Homo sapiens: one gene and its partners. The protein of the gene in region 3 purifies or fractionates together with the protein of the main gene of each other region. This does not show direct contact. Each region holds a gene or a part of one and is shown on either strand. Other genes may lie near its edges.

Evidence for each region.
Region 1: the proteins of NOSIP (region 3) and BCAR3 purify together in Homo sapiens (co-immunoprecipitation; one large-scale study listed by IntAct). This does not show direct contact.
Region 2: the proteins of NOSIP (region 3) and HMCES fractionate together in Homo sapiens (co-fractionation; one large-scale study listed by BioGRID). This does not show direct contact.

Annotation. Positions count from the first base shown.
Region 1 is NC_000001.11:93,563,918-93,566,871, reverse strand, and holds part of BCAR3 (breast cancer anti-estrogen resistance protein 3), read left to right. Parts: intron 1-2,954. UniProt on the Homo sapiens protein: Acts as an adapter protein downstream of several growth factor receptors to promote cell proliferation, migration, and redistribution of actin fibers.
Region 2 is NC_000003.12:129,288,812-129,292,467, reverse strand, and holds part of HMCES (abasic site processing protein HMCES), read right to left. Parts: intron 3,615-3,656; coding exon 3,471-3,614; intron 1,790-3,470; coding exon 1,664-1,789; intron 1-1,663.
Region 3 is NC_000019.10:49,570,451-49,574,106, reverse strand, and holds part of NOSIP (nitric oxide synthase-interacting protein), read left to right. Parts: intron 1-3,656. UniProt on the Homo sapiens protein: E3 ubiquitin-protein ligase that is essential for proper development of the forebrain, the eye, and the face. Catalyzes monoubiquitination of serine/threonine-protein phosphatase 2A (PP2A) catalytic subunit PPP2CA/PPP2CB.

The DNA of each region.
Region 1 (2,954 bases), on a different chromosome or scaffold from region 3:
CCTGTGATCCCAGCTACTCAGGAGGCTGAGGCAGGAGAATCACTTGAACCCGGGAGGCGGAGGTTGCAGTGAGCCGAGATCGCACCACTGCACTCCAGCCTGGGCGCTGGGCAACAGAACAAGAATTGGCCAACTTGCCTACCACTTATTAATAGTACCTCTAATAGGTGAGATTAGAAAAGGTGATGTGCCAAGATGAGGAGGTGGAGTTTTATCCAGACCTCATTTATCTGCATTCCTGTTCCTTCCCAGTCACACTGGGAAGTGAGCTCCCCTGCTCTTAGCATCAGACACATCCTGGAAAGTGTGGGGCAGTGTTGCGTAAACGGATTTTTCTTACAAGTGCTATGGTGACAGAAAGCAGCCTCCTCAGTCAGCACGGCCGGCATTTATCACACATGTGGCATGCGCGCGGCACCGTGCTAACTGGATGTCCTGAGGAATTTAAGCAGGTACGATAAATGCAGTGTATACTGTGGGAGCACTTAGGGGAAGGGACTGATTTGGTCAGAGATGTTAGGAAAGAGGAAGCACCTGGTGACAGCTTCCCAGAAAACACTGCATTGATTGTTAAAGGACAAAAGCAGTTACCAGCAAGCAGGGCTGGGAATTCCACTCAGATGGCACAACCCAAGCAAAGGCGCTGAGAGACCTTGGGGAAAACTGGGATCCACAAGTACTTGGGTTTAGATTTGTGCAAAGTATGACCTAAGGAATGGCCAACTAGGCTACAGAGGGAGGTGCAGCTGGGAAGCCCTTCCACATAAGACCGTGGCTGAAGAAGAGCCAGTGAAGGGTTTAATCATGGGAGGGTGTCACATGGTCAGATTTCTGTTTTAAAGTAAATTACTCTGGTGTCTGTGTGGAGGAAGGCTGGAAGGCTGAAGGTTTGCTGGCAGAAAGACCATTCAGGAAGGAGGGCTTTGCCAAGGCAGTCATCAAGGATGACTATTTTCCATTACTATATAATTTTTTAAATTCTTCAAGGGCTCACAGTTTGATTCACAAAGTTAAGAACTATGTGGGGGCAGGAGACTCCATTTATTTAATTCTAAAAGGGAGCTGCCTCAGAACCAGATGTGGGACTTAGTCGTTTGCACCATCTGCTGTGGGTATAAGCACCGCATACCTGTTTCATTTTCTTCCTCAAAAAGTTCTCCAGGATTGGCTGTATGTTACTCAAACAATAAAAGCACACAAGTCAACAAGTATCAGAGTGCCTACTTAGACAAAGCCAATGAATACATTACCATGGATGTTGCATAAGCCAATACATCAGGGTGGGTTTTGAGAAAAGTGTGCCATAAGCTGCTCTACAGCTTTAAATCACTTTAAAGGTCACTGATGGAATTTTTCAGTCGATCCTAATATAGATTTCACAGCAAGTACCCATTGCTGTAAGTGACAGTGAACCCAGGAAAGGCAGAGATCTGCTCACCAGCATAGACCAGACCACGTGAATGGGAAGGGGCTCAAAGCATGTATGAATAGGAGTCACCATCTGGGGGCCGGGCGCAGTGGCTCATGCCTGTATTCCCAGCACTTTCGGAGGCTGAGGTAGGCAGATCACCTGAGGTCAGGACTTAGAGGCCAGCCTGGACAACATGGCAAAACCCCGTCTCTGTTAAAAATACAAAAATTAGCCGGGGAATTTTGAGAGGGAATACTTGAGAGGCTGAGGCAGGAGTATCAAGCGATTCTCCTTGATTCTTAATTTCATTGAGCCGAGATTGTGCCACTGCACTCCAGCCTGGTCTCAAAAAAAAAAAAAGTCACCATCTGGCCTTTGGTTGGTTATCCACCAAGGATATTCTGGCATCATCAGGAAGAAAATATTCCTGTTGTCCTTTCTACAACCAAGATCCTGTGATCTAGATGGCAGGTATATTTAATGGCAGAACAAACTATCCCAGCAATAATAAAGGATGAGAACCACATGACTCTTTGGCTAGAGGCTTCTCTCTCTTTAAAAGAGTTGCCTGAACATCTTTGGCCTTAAGCAGACCACATCCTCTCTTAGATGGAATAGAGTTAAGAAATAGGCCCACACATATGGCTGACAGTTGATTTTCAACAAAGGTGCCAAAATAATTCACTGGATAAAGTATAATCCTGCAAATGGTATCTGCTATTGGATATCCATATGCAAAAAAGTGAATCTCGATCCTTACCTCATACCATACACAATAATCCAAAATGGATCATAGACCCAAAATGTAAGAGCTAAAGTATAACCTTCTGTAAGAAAACATAGGAGAAATTCTTTGTGCCCTTAAGCTAAGTAAAGACTTCTTGGCCAGGCACGGTGGCTCACGCCTGTAATCCCAGCATTTTGGGAGGCTGAGGCAGGCGGATCACCTGAGGTCGGGAGTTCAAGACCAGCCTGACCAACGTGGAGAAACCCCGTCTCTACTAAAAATACAAAATTAGCCGGGCGTGGTGGCGCATGCCTGTAATCTCAGCTACTCGGGAGGCTGAGGCAGGAGAATTGCTTGAACCCAGGAGGCAGAGGTTGCACCATTGCACTTCAGCCTGGGCAACAAAAGCAAAACTCCATCTCAAAAAAAAAAAAAAAAAAAAAGAAAGAAAGAAATTCTTAGGACACAAAAAGCATGAACCACAGCAGAAAACATTGAGTACACATATATCTGATAAAGGACTTACATCTAGGCTATACAAAGAACTCTTACAACTCAGTGAGAAGATAAAATTTAAATAGACAAAAATTTGAATAGACACTACATCAGAGAAGGCATACAAATGACAACTACATGAAAAGATGTTCAAAGCATTCATCATTAGGGAAATGTAAATTTAAACCAACCACAATGAGATACCACCACACTATCTAGAATGGCTACAACTAAAAAGAATGATAGGCCAGGCACGGTGGCTAATGTCTGTAATCCCAGCACTTTGGGAGGTCGAGGCGGGTGGATCACCTGAGGTCAAAA
Region 2 (3,656 bases), on a different chromosome or scaffold from region 3:
CAGGCTGGAGTGCAGTGGTGCAATCTCGGCTCACTGCACCCTCCACTCCCCACCCCAGGCTCAAGCTATCATTCCACCTCAGCCTGCCAAGTAGCTGGGACCAGCTACTCAGTATCATGGTATTGGCTTCTAGCACATTGGGTAGCAAGTCCCTTTTACTCGGTAACACTATTTCCAGTCCCCAAAATGAGATGACAGGTGAACAAACAATTCCCAATTTTAACAAGCAAACTGCTAAGAACTCAGGTGCTTTAGCAGTGTCAGACTAAATAATCTAATTAAAAATAAAACATGATGTTGGCATGTCAGATTTGTTTTCAATCTCCTGATAATGTTTTAACATGAACAGTTCAAATTATGTCTTACAGTGAAAGGGTTTTTGTTTCATTTTTGAGATGGGGTCTCACTCTGTCACTCAGGCTGGAGTACAGTAGCACGACCTCAGCTCACTGCAACCTCCACCTCCTGGGCTCAAGTCATCTTCCCACCTCAGCCTCCCAAGTAGCTGGGACCACGCCCAGCTAATTTTTTGTATTTTTGGTAGAGATGGGTTTTCGCCATGTTGCCCAGATTGGTCTTGAACTCCTGAGCTCAAGTAATCCACCTGCTCTGGCCTCCCAAAGTGCTGGGATTACAGGCATGAGCAACCGTGCCTGGCCTGAACCACTGCGCCCAGCCACAGTGAAAGTTTTATGAAGGAAATGTTAAACGTAGAGTTGTAATATGACCTAGCAATTCCACTCCTAGGCATCTATCCAAGAGAGATGAAAACAAATCCATGCAAAACTTGTACATGAATGTTCATAGCAGCATTATTCATAATAACCAAGAAGTGGAAACAATCCAAGTGTCTATCAACTGATGAATGAATTAACAAAATGTGGTCTGTTCTTACAAAAAGGAATGAAGTGCTGATCCATGCCAAACATGGATGAATCTTGAAAACATTATGCTAAATCAAAGAAGCCAGTCACAAAAGACCACATATTCTATGATTCTGTTTTTATGAAATGTCCAAAATAGGCAAATCCAGAGATGGAAAGTAGATTCGTGTTTGACAGGGGCTGGGCATAGTGGAGAATAAAGAGTGATTGCTAATGGATATGTAGTTTCCTTCTAGAGTGATAAAAATATTCTAAAAATAGAGGTAATAATTGCATACTTTGAACATACTAAAACATTCCTGAATTGCACATTTTAAAAAGGTGAATTTTAAGGTGAATTATCTCTCAATGAGCTCATTTCATTTCATTTCACTTTATTTTATTTTATTTTGACAGAGTCTTGCTCTGTCGCCCAGTGCAGTGGTGTGATCATAGCTCATTGCAGCCTCTATCTCGTGGGTTCAAGTGATCCTCCCACCTCAGCCTTCCGAGTAGCTGGGACTACAGGCACACACCACCATGCCCAGCTAGTTTTGTATTGTTTGTAGAGACGGGGTTTCACCATGTTGCCCAGGCTGGTCTCAAACTCCTAGGCTCAAGCAATCTTCCCGTCTTGGGCTCCCAAAGTGCTGGGATCACAGGCGTGAGCCACCGCACTGGGCCAAAGCTGTTATTTTAAAATAAATAAATAAAACTATGGGGAAGAAAAAAATGTCCTTTGGATTAATTTGTTTCCCTGTGCCTTTCCAAATATATATTGTGAATGCTGATAATGATACCTTCTCTGTCTTGATTTGAGGAAAATAGATGAAGTATGGCTGCCTCTGGTTTGTTCCCTGACATCGCTGCCACTCATAGAATCCATCTGCTAAAACGACACAGCGTCTTCCCTTTCCCAGAGGCACCTGAGGGAAAATGTGAGCAAGATATGGTCTTAGTGATACAATCATGTTTCACAGGCTGCCATTACTTGGAGAACTTGAATTAAAATCTGAGGTTTGGGCCAGGCGGGTGGCTCACGGCTGTAATCCCAACACTTTGGGCGGCCGAGATGGGAGGATCACTTGAGGTCAGGAGTTCGAGACCAGCCTGGCTAACAAGGTGAAAGCCCATCTCTACTAAAAATATAAAAATCAGCTGGGCGTGGTAGTGCACACCTGTAGTCCCTGCTACCTGGGAGGCTAAAGCACGAGAATCACTTGAACTTGGAGGCAGAGGTGGCAGTGAGCCAAGATCATGCCACTGCACTCCAGCCTGGGCAAAAGTATGAGACTCCATCTCAAAATAAATAAACAAACAAATAAATACATAAAATCTGAGGTCTGCCAATGTATGACCTTAAAACAGTTATTTAATTTCTCTGTACCTCTCTTTTCTTTTTTTTTTTTTTTTTGAGACGGAGTCTTGCTCTGTCGCCCAGGCTGGAGTGCAGTGGCGTGATCTCGGCTCACTGCAAGCTCCACCTCCTGGGTTTACTTAAGCCATTCTCCTGCCTCAGCTTCCCGAGTAGCTGGGACTACAGGCGTCCGCCACCACGCCCGGCTAATTTTTTGTATTTTTAGTAGAGACGGGGTTTCACCGTGTTAGCCAGGATGGTCTCGATCTCCTGACCTCGTGATCCGCCCATCTTGGCCTCCCAAAGTGCTGGGATTATAGGTGTGAGCCACCGTGCCCGGCCACTCTCTTTTCTTATGTATAAAGAAAGTCACAACTCACATAGATGTTGAAAAGATTAAATAATGTACATAAAAGCAATCACCTCTTTTCTAACAAATAGGTACTTGTCATAGCTAGTCTTCAAAGGTGCCTCCCCAATGAAGCATGCTTCCCAGTATTCACACCCTATGTAGACACCTCCCACACTGAATTTGGGCTGGCTCTGTGTAACCCATAGAATGCAACAGAAGTAGGCCGGGCGTGATAGCTCACACCTGTAATCCCAGTACTTTGGGAGGCCCAGACAGGTGGATCACTTGAGCCCAGGAGTTTGAGACCAGCCTGGGCAACATAGCCAGACCTTGTCTCTATTTAAAAAAAAAAATTAAACAATAACAATAAAAGAATACAGCATAAGTAATGCTGTATGACTGCCAAGATTAAGTGATGCTGTAAGACAAAGGCTTATATCTTCTGTCCTGCTCTGTTGGATCATGAGCTCTGGGGTAAATGAGTCACCGTAACAGAAGCCTGGCTACCCTGACACCCTCGAGCTAGGCATATGGAAAGCCTTCTAGTTGTTCTAGTCATCCCAGCTGAAGGGTCAGATGTGGGTGAAGAAGTCATCTTGGACATCCAGCCTCAGCTGCCATCTAACTGCAACATGAGAACTTCCAAGTGAAAACTGCCCAGATGAGCCCAGTCAACCCAGAGAATATGAGAGATAATGTTTATCATTTTGTTTCACACTACTAAGTCTGGTGTGGTTTGTTATGTAGTAACAAAATAGCATTCCACATTAACAACTGGGAACATTCTTTTTTGTGTTATTTATTTATTTTTGGTTGTCCTCTGTAGGCTAGGATGGAAACACCCTTTGGAACCTTATTTCTGAGGTATACGGGGCACTAATAGCTACCAGCCACCTACCTTAAATGACCGTTTCTCCATTACGGTATCACTACGACAGTTGGTAGTATTGAACTGCAGCTTGGAAGGATCACTTTCTTTGAACCAAGAAGGGACCAAGCCCCAGCGCATGGGAGCAATGATACGCTCAGATGAGTCTGCATCCTGCCACGGAGAGAAGATCTAGTGAGGAGATCATAATGAAAT
Region 3 (3,656 bases):
TAGATCACCTGAGGTCAGGAGTTCAAGACCCAGCCTGGCCAACATGGTGAAACCCCGTCTCTACTAAAAATACAAAAAAAGTATCTAGGCATGGTGGTGTGTGCTTGTAATCCCAGCTACTTGGGAGGCTGAGGCAGGAGAATCACTTGAACCTGGGAGGTGGAGGTTGCAGTGAGTCAAGATCGTGCCACTGCACTCCAGTCCGGGTGACAGAGTGAGACTCCGTCTCCAAAAAAAAAAAAAAAAAAATACTTCAGTCCTGGTGACAGTGAGACTGTCTCCAAAATAAATACATACATACATACATACATACATAAAATAAAATAAATGGGCAGAACGTGGGGAGGTTGTCATGAGGACCGAATGTGTTCACATGTGGAAAGTGCTTCCCACAAGGTCTGATTCTTAAGGGGTTGAAGGATGTGATGATTACTTCTGTTCTTCCAGTGCTTCTGTGATTCACATGTTACTAATGAATTATTAGTGTATTAATGGCATGATGTCATGGCTGCATGGTTAGTTCATTGCTAACCCACCTCCCCTGGCCCTAGGATTGGAGGTGGTTCATTGATTCTATCATGACATCTCTGAGACCTCCCAGGTGCCAGGCAATGCTGGGACCCAGGCTGAAGTTCAACCCAGGCCCCACCAACCAGGGCCCCTACTCTGGAGCCGAAATACCGAGGGACGGGCTGTAACGGAGGTAGCTCAGGGCACGGTCAAGTGCAAGGAGAACCTAACTGATCCCGGAGAGGCAGGCTTCTTGGAGGAGGCAAACCTTGGCAGTGCTCTGGAGGAGAAAGGAGACAGGATTTCAGGGGAGGACAAGACACACACTAGCTGTCTGATCCACTCCCAGAGTTCAGCACAGTGCCTGAGGCCGCCTGCAGCCAGCTGGCACAGTGGATGGTCAAAGCCACAGGTGCTTGGATCAAACACAGCTGTAGGACTCACTAGCTGCATAACCTAGGGCACCGCCTCTGTGCCTCTCTTCATTTATAGCAACTATTTGAGGTGCTGTGATATTCAGTGGAGTGTTGTGATATTCGACCGTTTGAGGTGTTATGATATTCAGTAAAATGCTTAGAGCCAGGGTCTGCTTCAGAGCCGGGCTTTTTTTTTTTTTTTTTTTTTGAGACACAGTCTTGATCTGTTGGCCAGGCTGGAGTGCAGTGGCCCGATCTTGGCTCACTGCAACCTCTGCCCCCAGGTTCAAGCGATTCTCCTGCCTCAGCCTCCCGAGTAGCTGGGACTACAGGCACCTGCCACCACACCCAGCCAATTTTTGCATTTTTAGTAGAGACAGGGTTTCGCCACATTGGCCAGGCTGGTCTTGAACTCCTGACCTCAGGTGATCTGCCCGCCTTGGGCTCCCAAAGTGCTGGGATTACAGGCGTGAGCCACTGCTCCCAGCCATATATATATATATATTTTAAAGTATCTCCAATGAAAATTTAGCATCTGATGGCCAGGCCAATGTGGTGAAACCCCATCTGTGCTAAAAATACAAATATAAAAATACAAAAATGAGCTGGGCATGGTGGCACACGCCTGGAATTCCAGTTACTTGGGAGGCTGAGGCAGGAGAATGGCTTGAGCCCTGGAGGTGGAGGTTGCAGTGAGCCAAGATTGCACTATTTTGCACTCCAGACTGGGCAACAGAGCGAGACTCTGTCTCAAAAAAAAAAAAAAAAAAAAAAGGCTGGGTGCAGTGACTCATGCTTGTAATCCTAGCACTTTGGGAGGCTGAGGCGGGTGGATCACCTGAGGTCAGGAGTTCGAGACCAGCCTGCCCAACATGGCGAAACCCCATCTCTACTAAAAATACAAAAAATTAGCCAGGCATGGTGGCGGGTGCCTGTAATCCCAGCTACCTGGAAGGCTGAGGCAGGAGAATCACTTGAATCGGGGAGGTGAAGGTTGCAGTGAGCCGAGATCACACCACTGCACTCCACCCTAGGTGATAAAAGCGAAACTCCATCTCAAAAAAAAAAGAAAAAAAAAAGAAAATTTAGCATCTGAATTACTGAAATTACTGAGATGTGCTGAAAGAGTAAAATACATTCTGGATTTCAAAGGCTACAAATAAAGGAATGGATTGGCTTTTTTTTTTTTTTTTTTTTGAGACAGAGTCTCACTCTGTCGCCAGGCTGAAGTGCAGTGGTGCGATCTGGGCTCACTGCAACCTCCACCTCCTGGGTTCAAGCGATTCTTCTGCCTCAGCCTCCCGAGCAGCTGGGACCACAGGCGCGCACCAACACACCCAGCTAATTTTTGTATTTTTAGTAGAGATGGGGTTTCACCATGTTGGCCTGGATGGTCTCAACATCTTGACCTTGTGATCCACCCGTCTCAGCCTCCCAGAGTGCTGGCATTACAGGTTTAAGCCACCGTGGCCAGCCTGATTGGCCTTTTTTCTGAGATTGTGACTTTCCTAGGAAAACTGACAGTTGTCACCTAGTTAAAAGGAATGGCTCCAGAGCCTGGCTGCCTGGGTCTGAGTCCCAGCTCTGCCATTTCCCAGCTGGGACATGCTGTGAGCCTGTTTCCTGTGCTGTGAGGTAGGGATTATGCTGACATCGGTCGCTCCTGCTCTTTGCCTGTTTCCTCTCTGAAATGCTGGTGACAGCAGATGGCAGCAGTCTGCTTTGTAGTTTGAAATTGGACCTACCAAAGAGACAATATAGTGTGGGGCAGGAGAGCTCAGCTTTCAGAGTTTGTAAATCCTGAAACTGGCTATTCTTCCACCCTTGGTTGGAGGCGCTCACGCTTTCTGGTCTCAGGATCTTAAAAATCACTGAGTTTTAAAAATCAAAGAGTTTGCCGGGTGCAGTGGTTCATGCCCGTAATCCTTGCACTTTGGGAGGCTGAGGTGGGCGGATCACTTGAGATCAGGAGTTCAGAACTAGCCTGGCCAACATGGTGAAACCCTGTCTCTACTAAAAAATACAAAAAAAAAAAAAAAAAAATTAGCTGGGCGTGGGCGCCTGTTATCTCAGCTACTTGGGAGTCTGAGGCAGGAGAATTGCTTGAACCCAGGAGGTGGAGGTTGCAGTGAGCCGAGATCACACCACTGCACTCCAGCTTCGGCAACAGAGCAAGACTCCATCTCAAAAAAAACAAATTAAATTAAAAAAAGTTTAAATGCTCCCTCTATAGGTGTTCCTCCTATTTTTGGAGGGAAAATGTCCCCATCTATGTAGAAACCTCAGTTCTTGGCCACAAAACAGCAAGCAAGCTCATCTCTGGGAAAGCCGAGGTGCCCAGAGCCAAATACTGCAGAGGGTCAAGGGAGTTGACAACTAAGAATAGAGTGGGGAATGTGTCCATGAAAAGGTCACCGTGACCTTCATGAGTGGCAGTTGTGGGGGCTGGGGAGCGGATGGCAGGTGAGGGGAGGCAACAGGTGTTGGACGTTCACTGAGAAGCTTGGGGGTCAGGGGGAAGTCGGAGGAGGAGCCTGGCATGTGGAGGGGACCCTGGGTCAAGTTGGGGTGTTTGATCAAGGTCGCCCTTCTGCAAGCAGCCCTGGCTGCCTCAGGGGGCACATTGATCGGGAAGGGGCGTGAGGGGGTATTTAGCGTGATAGGAAGGTTCTGTATCTCCATAGGGTCGTGGTCACAAGGGTGTATACATTTGTCAGATCGCATCCAACT